Homo sapiens: one gene and its partner. The protein of the gene in region 1 interacts with the protein of each later gene in a pairwise test. Each region holds a gene or a part of one and is shown in the gene's direction. Other genes may lie near its edges.

Evidence for each region.
Region 2: the proteins of SYNPO2 (region 1) and WNK1 interact in a two-hybrid assay, tested with the Homo sapiens proteins (one large-scale study listed by IntAct).

What each region holds. Positions count from the first base shown.
Region 1 is NC_000004.12:119,028,068-119,031,890, forward strand, and holds part of SYNPO2 (synaptopodin-2), read left to right. Parts: intron 1-1,777; coding exon 1,778-3,823. UniProt on the Homo sapiens protein: Has an actin-binding and actin-bundling activity. Can induce the formation of F-actin networks in an isoform-specific manner.
Region 2 is NC_000012.12:755,285-759,107, forward strand, and holds part of WNK1 (serine/threonine-protein kinase WNK1), read left to right. Parts: intron 1-3,823. UniProt on the Homo sapiens protein: Serine/threonine-protein kinase component of the WNK1-SPAK/OSR1 kinase cascade, which acts as a key regulator of blood pressure and regulatory volume increase by promoting ion influx.

The sequences.
Region 1 (3,823 bases):
TTAAATGTCTCCAAACATAAAATATATTTAAATTCAGTGCTTTGTATGGCATTTTGTTTTACCCAGGGGAGAGAAGACAGAAAGGAGAATTGGGATAAGAATTGCAGTTAGGTGTTAGGATTTCTATTGTTTTATTTCACGTTTATTTTTGTTTGTTTTTTTTTTTTTTTTTACTAATTTTGGAATTTTATTTGAGGATGTAAAGGCTGACAGGCAAAGGCACTTGACTGTATATATGATACACAATGGCAATGAATTCGGTTATTCAAAGTAGGATATTAAGTCTTCTAACCTATTGTTATTCCTTTCAAAGCATATTTTTAGCATAACCATTTGTAGCTTTATTGGCAAGTGCTGTTAATCATTCCTTATACTTTAAGCATCTGTAGGCCATCTTCACATTTATAGCATATTAAACAAGAGTATTGAGACACCATTCACATACTTTACATGTTGGCAGTGAAGTTAGCAGCAACTGTGCAACTGTGACTGTCAATTTAATAAGTTGTATAACACTAGTCAAAAAAGGAATTCTATTTAGTAATAACCACAGTTTCAACTATTTTTCTCTAGAAAATTCGATCACCAGTAAATGCCTGTAATCATATTATAAAATTATTTCCTTGGATTATATTTTATTTAAAAAAAATTAACCATTAAGTCTGTGACAAAAAGAGCTAATTTTCAATCATAAAATAGTCAAAAATTTTTTCTTAATTTTCCACTTAACTGTTTTGAGGAATTAAAAAATTTAGGGGACTCACAGTCATTATCATTGAAAATATGATATAACTATAAATTATAAATGATAGATGCTATATGTTTAGTTGCTATAATTTGCCACCCATTTCTTTTTTATAATAGTAATAATGAAAGAAAATTTTAAATATTTTTATTTTTATAAAATAAAAATCATATTCTTGTTTTAAATGACTTAATTTCTGCATCAGTTTTTACACAGTTAAGTGGGTCACAAGTCAATTTTTAAATTTCTCCAAGGTTTATTCTTGCTGCAAGGAAAGTAATATTGTATTTCCAAAATAGCAATACATTTACAAACAAATCTGTCTAGAAAACTTTGTAGCTAGAGTTTCTTATATGTATTTACAATAATGTCATATTTTGAATTTTAATTATTGATTCAGTACCTTCAATGATTAATTCAGTGTTTTGAATTTATATTAATCCAGTAGCTGTGAGTGGAAAGATTTGGGGTGGTTGTCAGGGTAAAAAAAGAAAAAAGAGAAAGAAGAAAACCTAAATAGCTAAATTCATTACATTAAAACATTTAGAAAATTTTAAAACATCTTCTTGGGACGCTCCTCCCTTTTTAAGATTCCTGGAAACAGTTTTATATTGACACTTTATTTTAAAATATGGAAGTATGAGATATGTCTCATCTTGTTTTTCAGAAAATATTATGTCTTTAAATTATGTCCTTCTTAATTCTAATTTTATCCTATTAATTGACATTTACTAGCCAGTTTTTATTATTAAAGTGGAAGGATCTCTAGAGAAACAAATGTATGAAACATATATTCTAATCAGCATATATAAAATATTTTTATGTAAACAAATAGAACAGTATATTATTGTAGAAGGAAACATGTTAAGAGAAATAAGAAAAAGAAATGTGTTGGATTCCTTCAAAATTCTGTACTCAATGGCAATTTTTTACATATTTATTTTCCCCCAGGAGAGTTCATTTCTGAGTTGCTGTGGTGTCTTCCTTGAACTCATCAGCTCAATATAATTTTTTTTTTTTTGCTTTCCCTAGGGCTCAGGAGGAGTGAAAGCCTGTCAGAAAAACAAGTGAAGGAAGCAAAATCTAAATGCAAAAGCATTGCCCTTCTTCTAACGGATGCTCCCAACCCCAACTCCAAGGGGGTGTTGATGTTTAAGAAGCGACGTCGGAGGGCCAGGAAATACACCCTAGTTAGCTACGGTACTGGCGAGCTTGAGCGAGAGGCGGACGAGGAGGAAGAAGGTGACAAGGAGGATACATGTGAAGTAGCATTTCTTGGTGCAAGCGAATCAGAGGTGGATGAAGAGTTATTGTCTGACGTTGACGACAACACACAAGTTGTGAACTTTGACTGGGATTCTGGACTGGTGGACATTGAAAAGAAACTGAACAGAGGGGACAAGATGGAGATGTTACCAGACACCACAGGCAAGGGAGCCCTCATGTTTGCCAAGAGGAGGGAGAGAATGGATCAGATCACAGCCCAAAAAGAAGAGGACAAGGTAGGTGGAACGCCAAGCAGAGAACAAGATGCTGCCCAGACCGATGGCCTGAGAACCACGACTTCTTACCAAAGAAAGGAGGAAGAGTCGGTAAGAACGCAGAGCTCTGTGAGCAAAAGCTACATCGAGGTGAGTCATGGTCTTGGCCATGTTCCCCAACAGAATGGCTTCAGTGGGACATCTGAGACAGCAAACATCCAGAGGATGGTCCCCATGAATAGAACGGCCAAACCCTTCCCAGGGTCTGTGAATCAGCCAGCTACCCCCTTCTCGCCAACCCGAAACATGACGAGTCCCATTGCTGACTTTCCTGCACCTCCACCTTACTCTGCAGTCACTCCTCCCCCTGACGCCTTCTCCAGAGGGGTTTCAAGTCCGATTGCTGGCCCAGCACAGCCCCCTCCATGGCCCCAGCCTGCCCCGTGGTCCCAGCCAGCCTTTTACGATTCGTCTGAGCGAATAGCTTCCCGAGATGAGAGGATCTCAGTGCCAGCAAAAAGAACAGGAATATTGCAGGAGGCCAAAAGGAGAAGCACGACAAAACCCATGTTTACTTTTAAAGAGCCCAAAGTAAGCCCAAATCCTGAACTCTTGTCACTCCTTCAAAATTCAGAAGGCAAACGGGGCACTGGAGCTGGAGGTGATTCCGGACCGGAAGAAGACTACCTCAGCTTGGGGGCAGAGGCTTGTAATTTCATGCAAAGCTCCTCTGCCAAACAAAAGACCCCTCCTCCTGTTGCTCCAAAACCTGCAGTCAAGTCCTCATCCTCCCAACCAGTAACTCCAGTTTCCCCAGTCTGGTCTCCAGGAGTGGCTCCCACCCAACCTCCTGCCTTCCCCACATCCAACCCATCAAAGGGCACCGTTGTCTCCTCCATCAAAATAGCCCAGCCTTCTTACCCTCCTGCCCGGCCTGCAAGTACTTTGAACGTGGCTGGTCCCTTCAAAGGACCACAAGCAGCAGTAGCCAGTCAGAATTACACACCCAAACCAACAGTTTCCACACCAACAGTCAATGCTGTTCAGCCTGGTGCAGTGGGACCATCCAATGAGCTTCCAGGAATGAGTGGGAGAGGAGCTCAGCTCTTTGCTAAAAGGCAGTCGAGAATGGAGAAGTATGTGGTCGATTCAGACACGGTGCAGGCCCACGCTGCTCGAGCTCAGTCTCCCACTCCATCTCTCCCGGCCAGTTGGAAGTACTCCTCCAATGTCCGAGCACCTCCTCCTGTGGCCTATAATCCTATCCACTCGCCGTCTTACCCACTGGCTGCTCTCAAGTCTCAGCCATCAGCTGCACAGCCCTCCAAAATGGGCAAGAAAAAGGGAAAGAAACCCCTCAATGCATTAGATGTCATGAAGCACCAACCGTATCAGCTCAATGCATCCTTGTTTACTTTCCAACCTCCAGATGCAAAGGATGGCCTCCCCCAGAAGTCATCAGTCAAGGTCAATTCAGCCCTGGCCATGAAGCAAGCTCTTCCTCCCCGGCCAGTGAATGCTGCCTCACCTACGAATGTGCAGGCTTCGTCAGTGTACTCGGTACCAGCCTATACCTCTCCTCCTTCCTTCTTTGCAG
Region 2 (3,823 bases), on another chromosome or scaffold:
ATGCATAAAAATTGCCATTATTGATATAGTAATCTTGCCAAGAATATAGACCAGCCTGATACAGGATATGAAAATAACTGAATGATCTTGGAACTTATTTTATCCATGAACTAATATGTTAACACGTAACCCTTTGAATGTCAGGTTCCAAATAACTAAGGCCATATCAAATGTGAAATTAACACAGCATGTGGAAGTAAACTTAAAAACTAAGAAGTTCTTTACAAACATAATCATTTCTTAACTTTTACAGTTAATGATGTAGAACTTCTAAGGTAGTGTGAAATTAAAACTACTCATTAATTTTATAGTATTTTAGAATTGAAAAGGTGACAGATCTTTAAAAAAAAAAAACCTCGTCAAACGAAAACTGTTCATTTTGGTCAGTCATATTCAAAAAACTTAGTCTGGGCCAGGCACGGTGGCTCACGCCTGTAATCCCAGCACTTTGGGAGGCCAAGGCGGGTGGATCACGGGGTTAGGAGTTCGAGACCAGCCTGACCAACATGGGGAAACCCCGACTCTACTAAAAATACAAAAATTAGCCGGGTATGGTGGCGCGCGCCTGTAATTCCAACTACTCGGGAGGCTGAGGCAGGAGAATATCTTGAACCCAGCAGGTGGAGGTTGCAGTGAGCGGAGATCGCACCATCGCACTGCAGCGTGGTGACAGAGCGAGACTCCGTCTCAAAAACAAACAAAAACAACAACAACAAAAAAACTTATGTCCGATTCCTTTTGGTTTACAGGCAGAAATTTACAGGTAGACACATTTCTTTCTTGTACTATCGATGCTTATTGATACTGATGCTGGAATTTTATTCTTCCATTATAGTTTTATATTTGAATAGGTGCTTTTTAACAATTTTGTTTTCCTTAACCGGTTACCTTACTTTTTTAAGACTGGACCCAATTACTTGTTGAGCACTTTATGAATTAATTTTGTTAGTTTTAATTATTTCACTTCTGAGACTTCTTAGCATGTGATGTGTGTTTTCCTTTTATCACCTGGAATTTTCTGATACTTTATTATCTTGGAACTGATAATACAGTGAAAAAAACTTAATTTGTCTAATGTCACGATAAAAACTTTGTCCAAGCTTCTCAGGTTTTCTTAGAACTCGTAACTTTTTGGATTTTTAATTCTCTATCTAGGCATGGGCATTACCAAACTAAAGAAAATCTTACATCGCATATTATTTTTGAGTCATTTCAGGATTTGGCTGCAGAACTAGATGAATCCTAGCTTATTAAGTGGTACCTGGTTTAGAAACTTCCATGTTATTTGTCTGTGCTTCTGTAATTTTTTGTTTTGATTTTGAAAAGATTATCTTACCTGAAAAATCCTTTATAGCAGTAGTTAGGCAGTATTTTTGGTTTTTTGACCAGGACACTTGCACTACATGCCTAATAAAATATTCAGTGGGTCAGTGTTTGAACTTTTATCTTTGGAGCCAAATTAAAGGACAAGCCAAGGGATTACTAAAGCACTGGAAAGATAGAAACTTTTTCGCTAAATCTATCCTTTTAATATACATATATTTCTGAAGCAAGACAGGAGAATATTGAGTTAAGTTGTTGAGTTAAAAATCTTAGTGTATTGAAACTGGGAGAAATCTTAGGTTATTCTGCCCAGCTATTTATTTGACAAATAAGGAACCTGAAATCATAGAGCAGGTAAATAACTTGATTAGGTAGATGAAGAACAAAAGCTAGTTAGGATCTAATAATTTGGGAGATGACAAAGCATTTGTAGTCCAGTAGATGGCTAATAAGTCATTTCAAATGAAGCAATATTGTGTTGGTGTGGAAGTGGCTGTTGGATTTCTGGAGAAACCCGGTCCTTATACCCATGGCAAATTTCAGGCTTCTGTTTTGGGTGTTGATTTTTATCACTTCAAATTGAGATATAAATAGGCTTTTGTGGATGGGTCAATATGGTATACAAATCAAGCTATTTTCTGTCATGCTAATTTTTTTAGAGTCATGCTATGCATTGCTCTTTAGTAAAACAAGCATCAATTCTTTTTTTTTTTTTTTTTTTTTTTTAAAAAAAAAAAGAGACGGAGTCTTGCTCTATCTCCAGGCTAGAGTGCAGTGGCGCAATCTGAGCTCACTGCAACCTCCGCCTCCTGGGTTCAAGCGATTCTCCTGCCTCAGCCTCCCAAGTAGCTGGGAGTACAGGCGCACCCCACCACACCCAGCTAATTACAAGCATCAATTCTTAGTAAATAATGCCTAGGTAATATTTTGATACCACAGGACCTTCAGTAATTACCGAGATGTTTAAGATGCAGATTTCTTTAACTGGTTTTATTAGACAAGTAGTGCACCTTAATTTTAATATTTGGTTGTCTTGGTCAGAAAATATTACTGTTGGGCTCTATCTGCAGAGTTTACATTGCTTTTCTAGAAAGGGATCTGGTTTTTCAAAAAAGATAGCATAATTTCCTTTAAGAAAACATTGATGGAGCCGGGTGCGGTGGCTCACGCCTGTAATCCCAGCACTTTGGGAGGCCGAGGCGGGTGGATCACGCGGTCAGGAGTTCGAGAACAGCCTGGCCAACATGGCGAAACCCCATCTCTACTAAAAATACAAAAATTAGCTGGGCGTGGTCCGCACGCCTGTAATCCCAGCTACTCGAGAGGCTGAGGCAGGAGAATTGTTTGAACCCGGGAGGCAGAGGTTGCAGTGAGTCGAGATCGCACCACTGCACTCCAGCCTGGGTGACAGGGTGAGACTCTGTCTCTAAAAAAAAAAAAAAAAAAAGAAAGAAAGAAAAAGAAAACATTGATGCACAGATTTAAGAATGATTTATTTTAAGCACCTTCCCAAGTTGCCTCTGAAGAGTTCACATGATGCGTTATATGTTGATGAGATTGTTTCCACATCTACCTGAAAAGAGAGGTTAAATCATATTTTTGTTGAAGCTCCAATATACTTAACTGCTTATTTTTCTCTGTCTTTTATTAAGACTGTGTGTCATGAGTACATGACATTAATATTTTGTGAATAGTATAGCAGTGTTACAGAAATGGGATGTGGTTCTGTGATTAAGAAACCATCATTTATTTCTTTGCTATAGTTCTTTTTTTTTTTTTTTTTTTTTTTTTGAGACGGAGTCTCGCTCTGTCGCCCAGGCCGGACTGCGGACTGCAGTGGCGCAATCTCGGCTCACTGCAAGCTCCACTTCCTGGGTTCACGCCATTCTCCTGCCTCAGCCTCCCGAGTAGCTGGGACTACAGGCGCCCGCCACCGTGCCCGGCTAATTTTTTGTATTTTTAGTAGAGACGGGGTTTCACCTTGTTAGCCAGGATGGTCTGCTATAGTTCTTAAAATATCTAATTGAACTGAATCTCTCTATTTGAATGTTGGTGATTTTTTCCCTCTTATCTTTTAAATTTGTGCCACATTCCTTATTTTTTAGGATGAGAATCAGCGTAACTTTCCGTCTCAGGGAATAGTTTTTGGAGTTTGTTCTTAAATCCTCAAAGTCACCGATTAGGAGTATTGGCAAATTTTTTTCTCTTACCTTTTTTCTGACCCGTAGTAACACAGTCTGAGAAGTAATCTAAAAACCTGGAAAGAGGTTGTTTTTGTGTAAAACAAACCAGGAATCTATTGTTGCTTTGTGACAATTCATTTCTTGACATTCAAATTCTGATGCAAGAGCCTAGTCATTTAAAATTTATCTTATTCCACCAGCAGCTTATCAAAGAATTTCAAAAAATAAAAAATATATGTATATAAATATAAATAAAATTCATCTTAGTTCATCCCTATGGAAACATTCAACTAAAACTGGGCTCTCATTTTCAGAAA